Linked DNA regions of Homo sapiens. The protein of the gene in region 3 purifies or fractionates together with the protein of the main gene of each other region. This does not show direct contact. Each region holds a gene or a part of one and is shown on either strand. Other genes may lie near its edges.

Evidence for each region.
Region 1: the proteins of PCCA (region 3) and TBC1D25 purify together in Homo sapiens (affinity purification with mass spectrometry; one large-scale study listed by BioGRID and IntAct). This does not show direct contact.
Region 2: the proteins of PCCA (region 3) and TTC1 purify together in Homo sapiens (affinity purification with mass spectrometry; 2 studies listed by BioGRID and IntAct, with this or other methods). This does not show direct contact.
Region 4: the proteins of PCCA (region 3) and ALDH4A1 purify together in Homo sapiens (co-immunoprecipitation; one large-scale study listed by IntAct). This does not show direct contact.

The regions. Positions count from the first base shown.
Region 1 is NC_000023.11:48,545,713-48,550,953, reverse strand, and holds part of TBC1D25 (TBC1 domain family member 25), read right to left. Parts: intron 1,441-5,241; exon of another isoform or gene 1,310-1,440; intron 1-1,309. UniProt on the Homo sapiens protein: Acts as a GTPase-activating protein specific for RAB33B. Involved in the regulation of autophagosome maturation, the process in which autophagosomes fuse with endosomes and lysosomes.
Region 2 is NC_000005.10:160,015,138-160,020,378, reverse strand, and holds part of TTC1 (tetratricopeptide repeat protein 1), read right to left. Parts: exon of another isoform or gene 1,348-5,241; intron 1-1,347.
Region 3 is NC_000013.11:100,304,997-100,310,237, reverse strand, and holds part of PCCA (propionyl-CoA carboxylase alpha chain, mitochondrial isoform a precursor), read right to left. Parts: intron 4,488-5,241; exon of another isoform or gene 4,404-4,487; intron 3,047-4,403; coding exon 2,978-3,046; intron 406-2,977; coding exon 330-405; intron 1-329. UniProt on the Homo sapiens protein: This is one of the 2 subunits of the biotin-dependent propionyl-CoA carboxylase (PCC), a mitochondrial enzyme involved in the catabolism of odd chain fatty acids, branched-chain amino acids isoleucine, threonine, methionine, and valine and other metabolites.
Region 4 is NC_000001.11:18,873,816-18,879,056, reverse strand, and holds part of ALDH4A1 (delta-1-pyrroline-5-carboxylate dehydrogenase, mitochondrial isoform a precursor), read left to right. Parts: intron 1-1,444; coding exon 1,445-1,641; intron 1,642-1,801; coding exon 1,802-1,849; intron 1,850-2,589; coding exon 2,590-2,742; intron 2,743-3,553; coding exon 3,554-3,675; intron 3,676-4,475; coding exon 4,476-4,594; intron 4,595-5,241. UniProt on the Homo sapiens protein: Irreversible conversion of delta-1-pyrroline-5-carboxylate (P5C), derived either from proline or ornithine, to glutamate. This is a necessary step in the pathway interconnecting the urea and tricarboxylic acid cycles.

The sequences.
Region 1 (5,241 bases), on a different chromosome or scaffold from region 3:
GGCGCGGTGGCTCATGCCTGTAATCTCAGCACTTTGGGAGGCCGAGGTGGGTGGATCACGAGGTCAGGAGATCGAGATCATCCTAGCTAACACGGTGAAACCCTGCCTCTACTAAAAATACAAAACATTAGCCGGGCGTGGTGGCGAGCGCCTGTGGTCCCAGCTACTTGGGAGACTGAGGCAGGAGAATGGCGTGAACCCAGGAGGTGGAGCTTGCAGTGAGCCAAGATTGTGCCACTGCACTCCAGCCTGGGCGACAGAGCAAGACTCCATCTCCAAAAAAAAAAAAAAAGTTAAGACAAAGAACAGTGGGAGGATGGCAAAAGCTTATCGCCTGTAGTCCCAGCTACTAGGGAGGCTGAGGCAGGAGAATGGCGTGAACCCGGGAGGCGGAGCTTGCAGTGAGTTGAGATTGCGCCACTGCACTCCAGCCTGGGCGACAGAGCGAGACTCCATCTCAAAAAAAAAAAAAAATTTGACCACAAAACCACTGTCATAAAAATAACATGGTGTTAGCACAGCAGTAGACAAATAGAGCCCATTGGTAGAATGCAATAGAAAGCCCAGAAATAAATCCAAGCTTGTATATATGGAAACTGAATATGTGACAAACGTGGCATTTCGAATCACTGCAGAAAAGGTGATTATTTAATAAATGATGCTGGCAGGCCGGGCGCAGTGGCTCATGCCTGTAATCTCAGCACTTTGGGAGGCTGAAGTGGGTGGATCACCTGAGGTCATAAGTTCGACACCAACCTGGCCAACATGGCAAAACCTCATCTCTACTAAAAATACAAAAATTAGCTAGGCATGGTGGCGGGCACCTGTAATCCCAGCTATTTGGGAGGCTGAGTCAGGAGAATTGCTTGAACCCAGGAGACGGCGGCTGCAGTGAGCTGAGATTGTGCAACTGCACTCCTGCCTGGGCGATAAGAGTAAAACTTCGTCTCAAAAAAAAAAATTAAATTAAAAAAAATGATGCTGGCATAATTGACTATCTTGATTTTTTTAAAGCTAGGTCTGCTTATCACAATGCTGACAGAGAAAAGATTTATATGTAAAAAAGAAAACAATAAGCATAGTAGAAGAAAATATAGAATATTTGTATAAGCTTATGGATGGGGAACATGTTCCAAAGTAATAGGAGAAACTCAGCCAGGCACAGTGGCTCATGCCTGTAATCCCACCACTTTGGGAGGCCCAGGCAGGTGGATCACTTGAGATCAGGAATTCGATACCAGCCTGACCAACATGGTGAAACTCCATCTCTACTAAAAATACAAAAGTAGCCAGGTGTAGTGGCACATGCCTGTAATCCCAGCTACTTGGGAGGCTGAGGCAGGAGAATCACTTGAACCCAGGAGGCGGAGGTTGCAGTGAGCCGAGATCGCGCCATCGCACTCCAGCCTGGGCAATGAGAGTGAAACTCTGTCCCTCCACCTGCAATAAAAAGGAGAAACTCAGAAATCATAAAGAAAAAGATAGATATCTGTGTAGGCGTGCAATCAAATGTTTAATTTTGATAGGACAAAACAGATCCATCCCGTAAGCAAAGCCAAAAAACAAAAGATCAACTGGGAAAAATATTTGCAGTACCTATGATAGAAAGGAGGTTGGGGGCTGGGCACGGTGGCTCCCGCCTGTAATCCAAACACTTTGAGAGGCCGAGGTGGGTGGATCACTTGAGGTCAGAAGTTCGAGACCAGCCTGGCCAACATGGCAAAACCATGTCTCTACAAAAAATACAAAAATTAGCTGGGCATGGTGGTGCACACCTGTAGTCCCAGCTACTTGAAAGCCTGAGGCAGGAGGAGAGCTTGAGGTCAAGGCTGCAGTGGGCCATATTTGCGTCACTGCATTCCAGCCTTGGTGACAAAGAGAGTCTCAAAAAGAAAAAAGATTCATATCGGAAAAGTACAAATTGGTCAAAGGTCTAGGCTTTGTAATCTCCCAACTGTAGAGGTGACAGAAACTGGCTTTTTCCCAGAAAGAGGGACTGGGCCATCCAAACAGTCCCAACATGTCTGTTGCTTTCACAGCCATGAAAATGATCATGAGAATGCCATTAATATGTCTAATGATAGCTCCATATATTGGACACTTACATATTAATGTGTAGAATACCTTATGTTAAACACATACCGTTTATGTGTACAGACACGCAAATATGAATATACTCACATATGTGGATAAATGTGTGTGTAGGGAGTGTAAATAAGTAAAGGACATGCAAAGTTACACATCAAACCGATTCCCTCGGGGCAAAAAGGGTAGGGTAGGGGATTGAGATTAGGCATAGCGTTCCCAGGAGACTTCAGCATTATTTAAAATGCTTTTATTTTTAATAAGAATGTATTTACTGGGTAATGAAAGATTAGTTTCTCTTAAAAATATGACTCCAATCAAATTCCCGTCAGGATTTTAATGGAATAATAAGCTGATTTATTAAATAAAAAGAACAGTAAGTGAACAAGAATATTCAAGAAAATTTTTTAAAAAGGAAAACATGAAAACATATCATAAAACTATAATGATTAAGGCTGGGTGCGGTGGCTCTTGCTTGTAATCCCAGCACTTTGGGAGGCTGAGGCGGGCAGACTGCTTGAGTCCAGGAGTTCAAGACCAGCCTGGGCAACACGGCGAAACCCTGTCTCTACAAAAAATACAAAAATTAGCTGGGCATGGGGGCATGTGCCTATAGGCCCAGCTACTCAGGAGGCTGACGTGGGACAATTGCTTGAGCCTGGGAGGTGGAGGCTGCAGTGAGCTGAGATTGGGCCACTGCACTCCAGCAAGGATGACAGAGTGAGACCCTGTCTCAAAAAAAAAACAAAAAAAAAACCCTCAAAACCAAACAAACAAACAGAAAACAAACTACTACAATGATTAAAACAACATAGAATTGGCTTATAATTTAATAAATAGATCAACGTAAGAGAATCAGGAATTCAGAAACAGACCGATGTTGTGCAGGAATTTGGTAAATAAGACAGAGGGCTTTTTTTTTTTTTTTTTTGAGATGGAGTCTAGTTCTGTCACTCAGGCTGGAGTGCGGTGGCACGAGCTCGGATCATTGCAACCTCCGCCTCCCAGGCTCAAGCAATTCTCCTGCCTCAGTCTCCCGAGTAGCTGGGATTACAGGCGCCTACCACCACGCCCGGCTAATTTCTGTATTTTTAGTAGAGACAGGGTTTCGCCATGTTTGGCCAGGCTGGTCTCGAACTCCTGACCTCAGGTGATCCACCCGCCTCGGCCTCCCAAAGTGCTGGGATTACAGGCGTGAGCCACGGCGCCTGGCCTAAAAAGATAACCTTTTAAAGATGTATTCCTGCCAGACTACTGGGTGTCTTTCTGTCTGTCTCTCTGCTTTACTGGCATTCGTCCCAGTTCTCATGCACTTGGGGTTTTCTCCACATGTTTCGTAGCCATGCAGATTTGATTTTTTTCCTGAAATAGTGCTACTGTGTCTCTTTAACAGGTGAGGAAAACAAGGCCCAGGGAATTAAGTGACTGACATAAGCACATATGGCTACTCAGTGGCAGAGGTTCCTGTGTGTCTGGCTACCTGGCTTTTCCTATTTGGCTTCCTGCCCATCTCTGTCACTATCTTTCCCTCTGACTCTTGTTTCTCTCTCTCCTCTGTCTCTCTTTTGCAAAGCTGCCAATTTTAACAAGTCCAAAATGTTGTAGAGTTAAATGGTTAAGAACAAGGACTCTGGAGCCAGTTCAGCCACTGCCTGAGTTCAAATCTTGCTCTTCAACTTACTGTCTGTATAACTGGGACGAGTCCTGTCACCTCTCTGAGCCTCAGTTTCCTCATCTATAATATGGGGAAAATGATTGTCCCTACTCTATAGGATTATTTTGACAATTCAGTGAAAAAATATTATGTGCACAGAATGGCCCTAAGTGTTCACTACACATTAGCTAGTTATATGTTATTATGACATCAATAAAGTGCTCGACTCATCCCAAATGGGCACATGAGTTTCCTGAGGCTGGGAACCACATCTTCCACTCCACAACTATTTAAAACAATTTTGAACCTACAATAAAGTTAAAAGAATACACTGAACACCCATACATACTTCATCTAGATCCTCTATTAACATTTTTTTGGGCCACATTTGCTTTATCTCACTCTCTCTGTATATAAACACATTATTTTTGCCAACTTATTTGCAGACATCATGACATTTTACCCCTTCATACTTAACTGTGTCTTTCCCAAGAACAAGGATATTTTCCTTCAATAGATATGATACCACTACCACACTGCTATGGTTTGAATGTGTCCTTCCAAATTCATGTGTTGCAATTTAATTACCAATGTGATCATATTAAGAGGTGGGGGCCTTTAAGAGGTGATTAAGTCCTGAGGGTAGAGCTCTCACAGATGGGATTAGGGCTCTTTTTTTATTTTTTATTTTATTTATTTTTTGAGATGGAGTCTTGCTCTGTTGCCCAGGCTGGAGTGCAGTGGTGCGATCTTGGCTCACTGCAAGCTCCGCCTCCCGGGTTCATGCCATTCTCCTGCCTCAGCCTCCCGAGTAGCTGGGACTACAGGCACCCGCCACCACGCCCGGCTATTTTTTTGTATTTTTAGTAAAGACAGGGTTTCACCGTGTTAGCCAGGGTGGTCTCGATCTCCTGACCTTGTGATCTGCCCGCCTCGGCCTCCTAAACTGCTGGGATTACAGGCGTGAGCCACCGTGCTCAGCCTCTTTTTTTTTTTTTTTTTGAGATGAAGTCTCGCTCTGTCACCCAGGCTGGAGTGCAGTGGCAAGATCTTGGCTCACTGCAACCTCTGCTTTTCGGGTTCAAGCGATTCTCATGCCTCAGCCTCCCGAGTAGCTGGGATTATAGGCATGTGCCACTACACCCGGCTAATTTTTGTATTTTTTTTAGTAGAGACAGGGTTTCACCATGTTGGCCAGGATGGTCTCGAACTCCTGACTTCAGGTGATCCGCCTGCCTCAGCCTCCCAAAGTGCTGGGACTACAGGCATGAGCCACCGTGCCCAGCGGATTTGGGCTCTTATAAAGAGGTTGAGGGTGTGGGTTCACTCTCTTCTGCTCTTCTGTCATGTGAGGATGCAGCAAGAAAGCCCTCACTAGACACACAACCTGCCAGCACCTTGATCTTGGACTTCCCAGTCTCCAAAACTGTGAGAAATAAATTTCTCTTCTTTACAAATTCCTCAGTCTGTGGTATTCTGTTATAGTAGCACAAAACGACTAA
Region 2 (5,241 bases), on a different chromosome or scaffold from region 3:
CTTTGGGAGGCCAAGTGAAAGGGCCTCTACAAAAATAAAAATAAACAAACTTGGGATCAGAAATCTAAGCTCCTTCTAGGATTTGATTTAATCGTTTGTAGACAGCATTAAGTTCAACAGTGGTAACTCTAAGAAGTTGGTAAAACTGACCACCTTAGTTCCAAAGGATGCCTATTAGAAATGAAAGAAAAGGAGGCTGGGGCGGGCGGATCACTTGAGGTCAGGAGTTCGAGACCAGCCTGGCCAACATGGTGAAACTCCGTCTCTACTAAAAATACAAAAATTAGCTGGGTGTGGTGGTGGGCACCTGTAATCCCAGCTACTTGGGAGGCTGAGGCAGGAGAATCACTTGAACCTGGGAGGCAGAGGTTGCAGTGAACCAAGATCATGCCACTGTACTCCAGTCTGGGCGACAGGGCAAGACTCTGTCTCAAAATAAACAAACAGAAAACAACAACAACAAAAAGAAAACAAGAAATGAAAGAAAAGGGAGGCAGGAGGCAGGGCACAGTGGCTCATGCCTATAATCCCAGAACTTTGGGAGGCCGAGGTGGGTGGATCATGATGTGAGTTCGAGACCAGCCTGGCCAATATGGTGAAACCCAGTCTCTAGTAAAAATACAAAAATTAGCTGGGTGTGGTGGCACACGCCTGTAGCCCCAGCTACTCGGGAGGCAGAGAGAGAATCGCTTGAATCCGGGAGGCGGAGGTTGCAGTGAGCAGAGATCGCACCGCTGCACTCCAGCTTGGGCAACAGAGAGGGAATATCCATCTCAAAAAAAAAAAAAAAAAAAAAAAGAATGAAAGAAAAGGGAAACAACAAAATCAGAAAGGTTGCTCATGACGTTAACAGGACTATGCAGGCCACTATGGAAGAAGTTACTGAGAACTTTTTGGAAGCAATCGAGAGTATTCCCTGCAAACACATCCACAGCCACAACATTAATTAGATTATGAAAATGGTGCAATAGGGTGGCAGAAACATGGAAATCCAAAAGATTAAGTAATGTGGAATTTAGGAAAAATGACAGAGGGAAGAGACTGAAATATAACATCTGTTCTAAACTGAAACTTCTAAGCTTTGATAATGGTTCCTAAAGAGAAAATGACCTTAAAGAATAATCCTTAAAACTTTCAGAGCCTAATGTTTTAAAATCCCAGATACCAGGCATTCTGAATCCATGTTCACCAAGCAACAGACTTTTGGATCCCTTATGTGTACATGTAAATGAATACCATTTGCAAACCACTAGTGAAAGGGAGCAAACCCATTGAAATGACTAAATCTGCATTTTGGCTTACAAATAAAAAATGTTTGTTTGCAGGAAAGAATTAAATCACCAGAACCTGGATAAGTTCAAAGTTCCTTCATCTTCTTCATATTAATAAAGGCCACACCATCCATCCAGTAGCTGAAGACAAGGAATCATTCTAACGTCTCACTCCATCCCGCCAATCGAATCCACTGCAATGTGTGGTCTGCTTTACCTCTGAAATATATCCCAAAATCATACACTTCTCTTCAGATCCACAGTTCAAGCTACTATCATCTTCACTGGGCTACTGCATTAGAGCCTAATTGGGCTCAAATGTTCTATTCATGTCCCTCCTCCATCCTCATACCCCTCCATTCTCTGTATAAGAACTGAATTCTCTTATTAAAATGTAAATAACTTCCGTCTCTCCCTGGCTTAAAATTATCCATCTGTTTCCTTCTGCACTTGGAAAAAACTTCAAGTTCTTTACTACGGCTTAGGAACTATTCCATAATCAGACCCTTGCCTACTATCAGCCCACTCTCTTCCTTAATCATCATGCTTCAGCCATCGGCTCTTCCATTCCTTGAACATGCCAAAACACCAAACTTGTTGTTACTTTAGGGCTTTATTCAACTGCTCTCTTTGTCTGCAATGCTTCCCTCTCAGACGGTCACACATTTGGCTGCTCCCAGTGCCACCCTCCCCTAAGTCTCTGTTGAGAGGCCACCTCTCCAGAGAGGCTTTCCTGACCAGCCAATCTAAAGCAGTCCTCTCCACCTGTCTTAGTCAGGTTGCTATAACAAAATAACAGACTCAGTAATTTATAAATAATAGAAATTTATTTTGCACAGCTCTAGGGGCTGGAAATTCCAAGATCAAGGCACCAGCAGATTTCGCGTCTGGTAAGGGGCTTGTTCTTTGCTTCAATATGGTGCCTTCTTTCTGCATCCTCACTTTGTGGAAGGGGAGTAGAAGGGCCCAACAGGTTCCCTCAAGTCTTTTATTGGTATACTTTATAAGGATACTAATTCTTCTAATCACCTTCTAAAGGCTCCACCTCTTAATACTACACATTGAGGATTAAGTTCAACATGAATTTTGGAGGAAAACATTCAAACCATAGCACCATCCTTCCAACCCAACCCATCCTTCATGTTAACATTTTGTCCTAATTCTCCAATGAGAGAACAGAAACCCTGTCTTGTTCACCACTGTATCCCTCAGGGCCTCAAACAATGTCTAGTGGGTGGAAGAAATGTAAATATTACTTGAATAAATGTGAGAAAAAAATTTCTGTAACTTATAAGGCCAATTATTGGCTCTCATGGGGGAGAAAAAGATGCTATTCATTCAACAGCTATTTAATGAAGGAAGATTGTGCAAAACCTGTGACAGTGGTCCTCAAGCCTCAGCATGTGCATATGAATTACCTAGGAAATTTACACATGAGACCTAAGAAACTGCACTGTGACAAGCAGTCCATAAAAGGCGATTTTCTTATGGAATCAATACTAGCATTCTGCAGTATGTGCCATAGGTCCTAATACTATAAACACTTGCTATGGTCTGAATGTGTCCCTCCAAAATTCATGTTGAAATAATCCCCATTGTGTTGGTATTAAGAGGTGCGTCCTTTTGGGATGTGATTAAGTCATAAGGGTTCCAACCTCATGAATGGATTAGTGTCCTAATAAAAGAGGTTGAAGGGAGCTGCCCTGCCCCTGCTGCCATGTAGGGACACAAATGGTGCCATCTGTAAGGAAGAGGCCCTCACCAGACACTAAAATTGCTGGCACCTTGATCTTGGACTTCTCAGCCTCCAGAATTATGAGCAATAAATTTCTATTATTTATAAGTTATCCAGTCTAAGGTATTTTGTTATAGCAGCTCCAACACACTAAGATAGAATTTTTGTATCATAATGTTATTATTGCAATTCTCTTCTGCTGCTACATTTGTCCTTCACCTTAGCCAAGCCTCTCAGAACCAGTTATTTGCTTCACATACCTAGTACATCTCAAATGTTAGCTAAAATTCCATTCCTGTGGGTAGTTATATCTACATTTAAGCTTTCACAAATAGTTAAGATTTACTGCTGAAATAAACACACGAATACACTATACTCTCTGAGAGCTTTTCCTGTTTTTACCAAATCTTAACTGCTTTCCTCCTCAATTATTCTTGATTTATGAGTCCTGCTGAGAAGTGACACTACACTTGAGCGTGAATTATCTTCCCAGCCACAGGACAAGTGAAGTTAGCTTGATTAACAGACTTTGGCTACTATTATTTGGTTGTGTCCAACAAGAAACCTTTAATACTACATAGACCCTGTACGGAATAGCACTTCTTTCCCAAATCATCAGGGGTCAGCTTCATGTGCTTTTGTGGTAGGGCACACAGTTTGGTTGTAAAGTAATCAATTTTTATTTATTTATATTCTTAAAATGGAATAATGTAATACAGGCTTACTGAAAAAAAAAGCAAATATTACAAAATTGCATTACATATAAATTAAAATTCCCTAATAATCATACCTCTCAAAGTTACTTACTGCTTATACTTTGGTGTATATCCTTCAAATTTGTATGTATAAACATATTTTCACATAGCCTTAAAAGAAATCATCACTGTTGTATAACCTGATTAATTAATTTGACATTATATTACAGGCAGCTTCCCAGGTCAATACCTACGATTCATCTTTTTAAAAAAATTTTTTAAATTATTTATTTATTTATTGAGACAGAGTCTCATTCTGTCACCCAGGCTGGAGTGCAGTGGCGTGATCTCGGCTCTCTGCAACCTCCGCCTCCTAGGTTCAAGCAATTCTCGTGCCTCAGCCTTCTAAGTAGCTGGGACTATAGGTGTGCACCGCCATACCTGGCTAATTTTTGTATTTTTAGTAGAGATGGGGTTTCACCATGTTGGCCAGGCTGGTCTTGAATTCCTGGTCTTGAGTGGTCTGCCCACCTTGGCCTCCCAAAGTGCTGGGATTATAGGCATGAGCCACTGCACCCGGCCAAGATTTACCTTTAACAACTGCATTGTATACTACATAAATATAACAACAAAATTTAAGTAATACTCTGGGAAGAACACATTTTTCTCTCCTACTATACCCTCCCAATAGGTCTGACACCAGATGAGAGTGTTTTCCACACTAAACAATTCTCCAATGGACACCAACGGAGTGTCCTATAATTCAATTCAGTTCTGTCACTATCTCCAGGTAGACAGTGTCTGATCCCACAGGTTAAGAGTTTAGTCTCATAAGCCTGGCCCCACTTCAGACACTAATCACAAGTCCCAGGTTGTGACCTATGATTCCGACTGAATGGTTAGCACAGGGTTCTTACCACCCTCTCTGTGGGTTCAATAATTTGCTAGAATGGCTCACAGAACTCTGGGAAACACTTTACTTACACTTAGTAGTTTATTACAAAGGACATTATGAATGATATAGAACAGCCAGGTGAAGAGACACACAGGGAAAGGTAGAGGGAGAAGGGGTGCAGAGCTGCCACGCCCTCTCTGGGTGCTACCCTCTTAACACTTCCATGTGCTCATCAACCTGGAAGCTCATCAGATTTCTAGTTCAAGAGTTTTTATAGGCCAGGCGCAGCAGCTCACACCTGTAATCCTAGCACTGTGGGAAGCTGAGATGGGAATATTGCTTGAGTCCAGGAGTTCGAGACCAGCCTGGGCAACATAGTAAGACTTCATTTCAAACACAAAAAAATTTAGCAAGGTGTGGTGGAAGGCGCCTGTGGTCCCAGCCACTTGGGACATTGATGTAGGAGGATTGCTTGAGCCCAGGAGGTTGAAGCCTCCAGTGAACTATGATCGCACCTCTGCACTCCAGCCTGGGCAACAGAGCGAGACTTGGCTCAAAACACAAGAAGAAAAAAGCTTTAATGGAGCTTAATCTCCAGCACTTGCCCTCCTCCTTTCCTGGATTTTGGTAGGTGGTGCCAAAAGT
Region 3 (5,241 bases):
TGTCCCAAATACGCACTAAAGACCTCTCCACAGCAATATTACTTCTGTAAGAAAAAAGACGCCCTCCTGAAGGCCTGTGTAACCAATGTGTACTGGTTATATAGAGTAATATATATGTTAGGCATATAGAGAAAATATGCATTTGCTTAAAACAGTGGAAACGGCTATACTTGGTATGGTGGTTTGATGGATTTGAGTTTTTCTTATTTCTCTTTAAGCACATAGTGAGCAAATGTGCTGTGCCATATTCTCATTGGTAAACCCCCAGGCTGTTCTCTGGAACTGGACACCATATACAATAACCAACGAGTGCAAATCTTTGTTTTTACCTCGAATAACATAGTTATCCAGTGCATCTGCCATTCTCTTCAGTGCCTCAGTTCTATCAGAGCCATATGTGATTAGCTAAAAACAAGCAAACAAAAAACCCAATATATATATATATTTAGAACTATGTTAAATGATTCATTTTAGTAAAAATTAAAATATTTCATAACAGATTTCTAAATATATCTCGAAATTTTATGATAGTTCAGTTTTCAATACATGTCAATTATGATTTTTTAAGTATATAAATATTAGAATCAAGCTATTTCAGACTCTTCTCCTACATTTCATTATCATAGTAAAGAGTGATTTTACAAAAACAAAAACGTAACAAAAGTAAGTACAGAAAAAATTTAAAAGGAGATACAGCTAAACGTGAATATATGAGATAGGATTTGAACACCAAGGGTAGTGGTGAGGATTAGATAAGACATTTTTTCCCTATTTTTCTGTGGTTTCCAAGTTTGATACCCTGAATAGCTAACACTTTCCTTTCTTTTTATTTTTTATTTTTGAGATGGAGTCTCGCTCTATTGCCCAGGCTGGAGGGCAGTGGCGCAATCTCAGCTCACTGCAACCTCCGCCTCACAGGTTCAAGCGATCCTCTCGCCTCAGCCTCTCGAGAAGCTGGGATTTCAGGCGTGTGTCACCACGCCCAGCTAATTTTTTTGTATTTTTAGTAGAGACAGGGTTTTGCCATGTTGGCCTGGCTGGTCTCACACTCCTGACCTTAGGTGATCCACCTACCTCAGCCTCCCAAAGTGCTGGGATTACAGATATGAGCCACTGCGTCCAGCCCTTAACACTTTCATAACTAACAAAAAAAGTAAAGTTTCAAAAATAAAAGTATAAAGAAAGAAGACGACTATCTTAGAAATCATTTGCAGTTTTACATATAATATACACAGAAGCAAATGGTACTTTTTCAGAAATCAAAAAAACAGAAAAGTCTTACTATTCTACATGATTTAGTGCCTACTTATATGTATCTCTATAATTTGGCAATGAAATAAGACCTTAACTATTCATTAAAGATTTTTCTGGCAGTTATATTAGCCAATCTATAGATTGTGATTATTTTAGTAGGTTTTACTAGCTCTTCAATATCAAGCAAATTTGAAAATTAATTTGTAGGCCATTTTTCTGAAGAGAAAAACATTCATCTAAAAATGGAATATTTAAAAATCAACGTATAATATTTTTACATAGTTTTATTTTTAAATTAAATGGTGGTTCTCTAATAAACAAAAGACCTAAATTTTATTTTAATACTACTAATAACTTAGGCCAACCACGGTGGCTCACGTTTGTAATCCCAGCACTTTGAGAGGCCGAGGCGGGTGGATTGCTTGAGCTCAGGTATTCGAGATCAGCCTGGGTAACATGAGGAAGCCCCATTTCTACAAAAGATATAAAAAAATAGCCCTGCATGGTAGTACACACCTGTAGTCCCAGCTACTTGGGTGGCTAAGGCAGGTGGATCGCTTGAGCCTGGGAGGTCAAGGCTGCACTGAGCCAAGATCATGATACTGCACTCCAGCCTGGGTGAAAAAGGGAGACCCTATCCCAAAAAAAAGCACTAAAACCCTAACTGAAGAAAGACAGATAAAAAAGTGTTTGTTTACTGCAACTATAACATTAAAAAGGACACTTGGGGAAAAGCCATCTTGAGAAACAAGGCTTGAAAAACAAATCATTCCTCAATACAGATGTATCATTTCAGAGAACACAGAATTTTCAAAATAAAATCCACAATCTGGCCGGCCATTGTGGCTCACGCCTGTAATCCCAGAACTTTGGGAGGCCGAGGCGGGCGGATCACGAGGTCAGGAGATGGAGACCATCCTGGCTAACAAGGTGAAACCCCATCTCTACTAAAAACAAAAAAAATTAGCTGGGCTTGGTGGCACGAGCCACCCAGCTACTCAGGAGGCTGAGGCAGGAGAATCGCTTGAACCTGGGAGGCGGAGGTTGCAGTGAGCCAAGATCGTGCCACTGCACTCCAGGCTGGCGGACAGAGCGAGACTCCATCTCAAAAAAATAATAATAAAATAAAAATAAAATCCACAATCTTAATTATTACAGCATTTTACACTTTATACGGTTTTAAGGGTTTAAAGATCCAAAAATTCAATTCATTTATTCTGGAAAGTCAAACTTCAAAAAGACAGGTGGGCAAAACAAATCTTATACTCTTACATCACATCTACTTAAATAATTGGTAATTTGTAAAAACTGAAGAGAAAAGATCAAAAAGTACTCTAACAAACACTGCCTATCAGCCCAACTCTTGCCATTCATTCATACTTCCATCTCAGGTAATTTCTGCCAATGGCCAAAAAAAACCTTAATTCCTTCTCATGGCAATGAGTTAGGCTGGCACCACTGGTTAGATGTTTATTATTATTATTGTTCATGCATGTGTGTGATGGTGTGGCATGATTTAGTTGGGGAGGAGGAGTACTACAAACTAACATAACGCTGAATTTTCTCTCAAGAGAAAAAACCTGCTCTGCTTTCACATTTACATCAGTGCATAATTAGTTGTTTAATTATAGCTTATGATTCAGATAAAGGCCCAGTTTCAGACTCTTTAAATATCATTGATTTTTCGAAGAAATCAAATAATCCATTGAGAAATTAAACTAACTTTTGAAATCATAGGATCATAATAAATGCTAATATCACTTCCTGGTTGGATGCCACTGTCCACTCGGACCTGGGAGAAAAAAAGAAAAAAAGAAAAGTAATTCATATTGTGTAGATATTTTTTTGTAACCACCAATTTCATTTCCATGGAGAAAATGGATAGAGAATTTCAATCTCAAATAACATTTCAACTTCTGGAAAATAGGAAAACAATCTAAAATCTTGATCCGTTAATATGTAATGCAACACATTTTTTGTTCTGCCACTGAATGACGAAACTAAAAAACAGCAAAAATAAAAAATAAAAAATGAAGACTTCCTACATCACTATGCCAGGATGCTGTGGCTCTCTGATGGTGTCTTCCAGCTGAAGCATGGCATGGACGATGCCCTTGCTAACTGCACTCCCTGCCAGACCCTTCTGAGCCCACCAGTGAGGCCCCTCGTCAAGCCTGGTCCTCAGCTCCATAGGAATGTGGGCCTGGGCCTTTCATGTCTGTAACACTTTCCTTTTCTGCCTCACCCTCTCAACTGTAAAACACTATTTTTCTGTTACTGTTGCTCCCCTGAGGCTTTCATGTTTACACAGCTTTTCCTATGGCTTTGCTTTGTAAAGCCCCAATTAGAGTTCTGATTTTGTGATTTTCTTGGGGTGGGGGGTAGGGGGATAGCACAAGTTCAAAATATTCTTTTGAAGAGGCTGATTGCTGTTAACCAGCCAACGAGTGAGTTAGTACATCACTGATTCTTGTTTTCATTTCCCAGTTTGATACCAGCAGCAAGGCACGGAGGTTAGCCATGCAAAACTTTAAAAATGAGCAGTTACTGAGGACAGAACATTTATTAAATTATTAGAAAGAAGTTTTGGAATCTGAAGTATTTAAAAGCTAATCAAAATACTTCAGACTGTCAGGCACATCCTAGGGGTCTTGAGGATGGAGGAACTGAATCAAAGCTGCTGGAACAGCAGGACTTTGATGCCCAACATTGTAAAGGGGTGGGAAGAGAAGAGCGGAAGCTCACGTAGCCTTCCACCTGTGGGAAGAAGCCTTCCTAATAAACAGCAGCTCATCTGTCTGCAGCAAGGCAGAAAAAGGTCAACACAGCGGCTGTTAGGCCTTTAATATTTTAATTTAGGCAATTATCAAGGGACCACATGTAGAACCTCTTGTCTAGGATATCCACATGAGGGTATAATGATGGCTTTATTATACGGTGACATCAGAAGACAAGCGATAGTTTCATTTTCTTAAAATTCACACTACTATTATTCTCTTTGTAAGGTTGTAAAAGGAACACTATAACATACCTGAAGGGCTTTTATTTCTGTATTTGCAAGCACAAACAAAAATATAGATATCTGTATTCGTATTCACATTCATATACAAAAATCTTAATTATAAACAAAAATCATTCAGCACACTTACGAAATATACTTGGCTTTCTATTTTCTGAAAACATATTTCAGGACATAAACTGATGTTCTATGAAATTCACAGTGTTGACAAAAACTAGAAAAAAATTAATGGAGCAGCTTTAAAAGCAATAAAATCACAATCTACCTTTTCCCCACATTAAAGAGCCCCAAAATGGCAACTAGTAAACGGGTTACATAACAGAAAATATATCTGTGAGTTTTCATTTTCTTAATTTTAGTACTAAAAAGTGAAAGAGCTAATTTGACCACTATGTCATCTTTAAAACCACAGCATGCTTGCTAATGCTGTGTTTACAAACGAGACTGATACAAGTTCTAAAACTTCTGACTTTAACTACATCCTATCATTTGCTACATAAACTGCTACAAAGCTAGGAAGAACTTAGATGTTCAACCCACAAATAAAATAACATAGACAATAAAGAATATTTATTATGTTCTTCTACAGTTCCTTACTTAAAACTTCAGTTGCCTTGAATAATATCATCCTATAAGGTGTTACCTACAGATCTTAATTAAATATAACTGTCTTTGTTATTTACTAATATTATGATCACAGAAGTTATGTCATCTTAACTTTAAAATACATACGATAAAATCAAGATATATATAAACACGTATCTTTGTATAAGCAAATCAGTATTCCCAATTAAAAACTGTACCACAGTATGAAAACTCTGCTTTATAATTTACTATTTATGCTGCTTTTTCCAAGTAATAATCAGCTATATTTTTATTTCTTAACAACCAATCTGAAGTCAGATCAAGTCTCCATTCCTTCAATGAAAGGCTATACAAATTTGCACTAAAAACTTTAAGAAAAAATT
Region 4 (5,241 bases), on a different chromosome or scaffold from region 3:
GAACTGCATTATCTAGTTTTCTTTCATTTTAATTAAGTTAAATCTTAGTAGCCAGTCGTGGCTGGTGGCTGCCGTGTCGGGCATTGCAGCTGTAAGCGGAGGCAAGTGCAAATGCAGAGACCAGAAGTGGGAATGAACTTGTATTTGAAGAAACAAAGCAAGGCCCATGAGTAGGGAGGGAGGAGGGCTGGTAGGAGAAGACGGGCTGAGACGTAGGCAGGGCTGGACCTTGTTGGCATATTAAAGTTTTCCCACAAAGAAACAGTTTCATGGTCAAGGAAATTTGGCATGTGTGGTGTTAAAGCAAAATGGACTCCTCCCGTGCAGAACTTCTCAGAGCCTTGAATGCTCTAATACGCATGGCACATCTTCAAGGACAAGGTCTGCCATGTAGTGTTTCCCACACGCATTGGGCCATGGAACCCCGTTTCTGCAAAGACCCCCATGGACCAAGTGTTTTGTGGAGCACATTTTGGGAATGTGCTGAGGCCTAGAGGGAGGGAGAGTTGCAGCCAGCACGTGACCAGCAGAGCTGGGACCGGTGGTCCAGCATGTTTCTCTGTGGCGTGAATTGGGGCCCACTGGGGAGTCTGGACCCTGTTCCTGGACTGGTGGGAGTTCGGATGGGGGTGTCAGGGAAGGTGAGCGCTCCTCAGGGTCAGCTGTGTGGCTTTCTGCTCTCAGAGCCTCCTTCCCTGCCTCCCTGAGGGAGAGAGGCCGCTGGTTACCACTTTCCAACCTGGAGCAGGTGACTTCATCTCTCTGTGCCTCAGTTTTCTTGGCTTGAAATTGGGGATAGTAATGGGAGGTTGTTGTGAGGCTTTGGTCAGACAAAGCACAGCGTACTTCGTCCAGAGTTGGGCAGCTGTTAAGTGCTTTCAGCTGCTGTTAGCTGCTGCTTCCCACGGAGGGAGGAAACTGAGGCCGGGAGAGTGAAGTGACCTGTCTGAAGCTCCCTCCCACTGGGGAAATGGGGGAGCGGTTTCCAGCACGCGTGGGGAGGAGGGGCCCAACCCTGGCAGCCGACATAGGGTAGGCTCCAATGTCCCTCGTGGACGAGGGCTCAGGAGAACCTCACAAAAAGCTGTGCCCACTTCTGGGAATGGCTGGCTCTCGGGGGCCTTGGGTTCTCATCTGTCCTCTGCTGTTGTGTTGGGTAGTTTCAGTTTTCCCATCAGTGTAATGGGGCTGTTGGACCTGATCACCTCTGATGCCCTTCACCCCTCCCTGGGCCTCAGTTTCCTCATCTGTGGAGTGGGAGAATGGGCCTGGCCCGTGGGTCTCTGGGATGTTGGCCAGCGCTCACTCTGAGCCTCCGCCCGCTCTGGGCTGCTCCGTGCTCGTGTTGGTCCCGGGCCATGGATGGCGTAGGTGGTGTTTTGGGCCCCTGGGCAACCGGGGGAGCCAGCTCCTCTGGTCATTTCCCCACCCCCGACCCCTGTAGAGTGCGGCGGAAAGAACTTCCACTTCGTGCACCGCTCGGCCGACGTGGAGAGCGTGGTGAGCGGGACCCTCCGCTCAGCCTTCGAGTACGGTGGCCAGAAGTGTTCCGCGTGCTCGCGTCTCTACGTGCCGCACTCGCTGTGGCCGCAGATCAAAGGGCGGCTGCTGGAGGAGCACAGTCGGATCAAAGTGGGCGACGTGAGTGGCACCGTCACCCCCGCCGCGGCCCAGCGGGGGGCTGATGGGATTGGGTCCCTGGGAGGCTCCTCTGCAGCCGGGGCTGGGGTGTGCGGGGAGGGGTCTCCCTTGGTCTCGGCCTGCAGTGACTCGTCTCTTCTGGCGCCTCCCTTGCCTCCAGCCTGCAGAGGATTTTGGGACCTTCTTCTCTGCAGTGATTGATGCCAAGGTACGGGGTGGGAAGTGGGCGTTCCTGGGTGGGGGCAAGCCCTGGAGTGGGTGGAAGAGGGAGGAAGAGATACAGGGTACCCTGACCCAGGGCATGACCCAGCCCCACTGCTTTGATCAAGGCAGCTCAGCAGCCACACACGCACCTCCAGCTTCAGAAAGGGCAGAATCAGCCGTAGCCAGACAAGAGCTCATCTTGCGGCCACCCTGGAACCAGGCTCAGCGAGCTCCTAATAGCATTTGCATGAGTGCATGTACACGTGTGTTTGTGAATGTGTTCATATAGGGCTCCGTGTGGCTCCACATGTAGGTCTTTCCATATAAACACGTACATATCCATTTGCACATAAGCACACACACGCATATGTCGATAAGTCCACCCACACGCATGTACATGGAGAAGGCATGCAGATCCCTACATGCTTAGACATGTGACCATGCATATGCCTATATATGCATTGATTGATGTGTGTCTGTGTTTATATGCGAGTGCACCTGTAGTACTAACACACGTACACTTGTGTGTGTACACACACACACACACACAGTGTTCATGTCTGTCCTTGTCTCTGCTGTGGCTCAGCCAGACCCTGGCTTTTGCCCTTGGCGTCCCCTACCCCTGCCCCTGTTTCAGGAGTTGGGCCCTTCAGGTGCAGGTGTTTCGGGGTGAGTGTGTTGTGGGGGCTGCCGCAGGGATGCCTTCCCAGCCTCTTAGACCTCCCTCCTCCCTGCCCACCCCAGTCCTTTGCCCGTATCAAGAAGTGGCTGGAGCACGCACGCTCCTCACCCAGCCTCACCATCCTGGCCGGGGGCAAGTGTGATGACTCCGTGGGCTACTTTGTGGAGCCCTGCATCGTGGAGAGCAAGGACCCTCAGGAGCCCATCATGAAGGAGGTGACTGGGGTGGGCAGCCTGGGGTCCAGAGGAGGACAATCCCACCGGAGCACAGCACACACACAGTTCTCCTGGAGACATTCTCCCATTTCACAGATGAGGCCCTAAAGGGAGACCCTAAAAGGGAATGCCTCCGACCGGGAGAGAGTAGAGCCAGGTTTTGAGCTCAGGCTGCCTAACTCCAAATCCGGGGCTGTGTCCTTGACCCTGGCTGGGGTCTGAGCATTTCCAGTGCCCTCAGCAACCACGTCCACTGCAGCCATCATAATGGCTGACACTGATAGACTTTTACTGTGGGGCCAGCTGTGGCTGAGCACTTGGCTGAGATGACGTGGGTGTTACTGTTCCCATTTTACAGATGAGAAACTGAGGTCAAGGCACTTGCCCAAGTTGGTAGTGCAGGGCTGGAGTGTGCCTGAGAAGATCTTCCCCCCAGCCCCTTGGTGGCAGAGGGAACCATGAACCCTTCTGGAGGGAATGGTATCTCTGGGCAACTCTCATGCCAGCTGCTGCTGGAAGCCTCTGGGACCTGGACCCTTAGTTCTCCGGGTGTGGGTTTGGCAGGGAGAGCCAGAAAATGTTTGCATCTTTTGCCGGCTTGTGGTGGGATGGACAGGACAGGGAGCTGGGCACGTTGCTGTCCTGGAGGGAACCCAGGAGGAGGCGACACCTGACCCTTCTTGCAGACACTGAAGTGTAAACTGAGGCCCAGGGACTGGGGAGAGGGTGAGCCAGAGCAGGGGCACTGGGAGGGCTCAGGGCCCTGGTCCCTGGTCCCGTGGAGGGTCTGACGCCGGGGCCTCTCTCCTAGGAGATCTTCGGGCCTGTACTGTCTGTGTACGTCTACCCGGATGACAAGTACAAGGAGACGCTGCAGCTGGTTGACAGCACCACCAGCTATGGCCTCACGGGGGCAGTGTTCTCCCAGGATAAGTGAGTGGCCAGGCCGCAGCCCTGGTGCTGTGCTCCGGGTGTCCTGTCCGTGTCCCCATCCCCACCTCCTGGACGTGGTTCCCAGTAATAATGCTGCCCCTACCTTCTCTCTGTCCCCTCCCCTCAGCCCAGACAGGCAGCCAGGGCTCGCCACATGGGCCCACAGCAGCAGGCTCTTTGTTGCCGGTACTGGTGGTGCCGGTGCCAGGGTGCCACTGGGGACCAGTGGATCTGAACCTCTAGGGGCAGGGCTAGGAATTGGTGTCTTCGACTGGCTCTGCGGGATCTGGTGTTGCCCCACTGAGTGAGGTGATTGTCCCATGCTACAAAGCAGGGCAGGCCAGGGGCTGCAGAGGCAGGATTCGAACCTGGGTCACATGAGGCTAAACTTGAGGCTTCGCCTCTTCTTTCCTCCGTGGCACTGGTTGCCCCCATGTCTGCCTCTATGAGAAAGTGGAGGTGAGCTTGGAGAGGGAGGAAGGGTGTGGGCCTGGGAGCTGGAGTTTCCGCTGCTCCTGAGGGACAGGAACATTGGACCAGGACAGGCCACTCCCTTCAACTTCGCAGTAGCCCTGTAACGAGGCGTGCCAAGCCCCTCCCCAGAGGAGGAAGCTGGGCTCAGAGACTGGGTAACCTGACCGAAGGCCCACAGCCAACAGCTGGCAGCATCCCTCATCCCTGACTCGGCCTCCTGTTGAACCTGGAAAGCCAGTGTGGGCTGGAGCAGGGGTGTTGAGGCTGGAGCTGGGGCTGGAGGGGAGATGAGCTGGTTGCTCTGTCACCACTGCTCTGCTTTGTAGGGACGTCGTGCAGGAGGCCACAAAGGTGCTGAGGAATGCTGCCGGCAACTTCTACATCAACGACAAGTCCACTGGCTCGATAGTGGGCCAGCAGCCCTTTGGGGGGGCCCGAGCCTCTGGTGAGTGGGTCCCCCTTCCCACAGGGGAGCTGAGTTCCTGGTGGGAGACCCTAGATGTTACGTCTCGAGGGGCTTCAGAGTAATAGGAAGGATACCATTTACTGAGCACTTATTGTGGGCCAAGCAAGTGCACTAGCTCAGGGTCCTTTCAGCAAACTCGTGAGCAAAGGGACTATTCTTCCCATTTTACAGAGGAGGAAACTGAGGCTCAAGGCCACATGACCCTGGTGGGATTGTAATTTTGGCTCCAGCAGCCGCACTTTCTGCACCATAGCCAGTGTCCCTTAAGTCCAACAACCTCTACTTCACAATGGGGAACTGAGGCTCAGGAGGAGCAATGGCTTGCCAAAGGTGACTGCTCCTGAGTGGCAGAGCCAGGGCTGAACCCAGGCGTGCTGGGGTTTCCCACACCGACCAGTTCTCCAGCTCTTGATGGATGCTGGCTGGGTGTCCTACAGTTTAACTTGATGCTCACTGCCTGGGGTTAGTGCAGACCCCACAGGTTAAGAACTCAGTCCCGTAAGACTGACCCCCCAACTTCAGATGCCAATCACAAGTACTGGGACCCCAGGTTACCCACACCTTGTCTGACTTTGCGACGCATTAGAAGCTCCCATGATGCCCTCTTGAGTTTTGATACGTTGTTA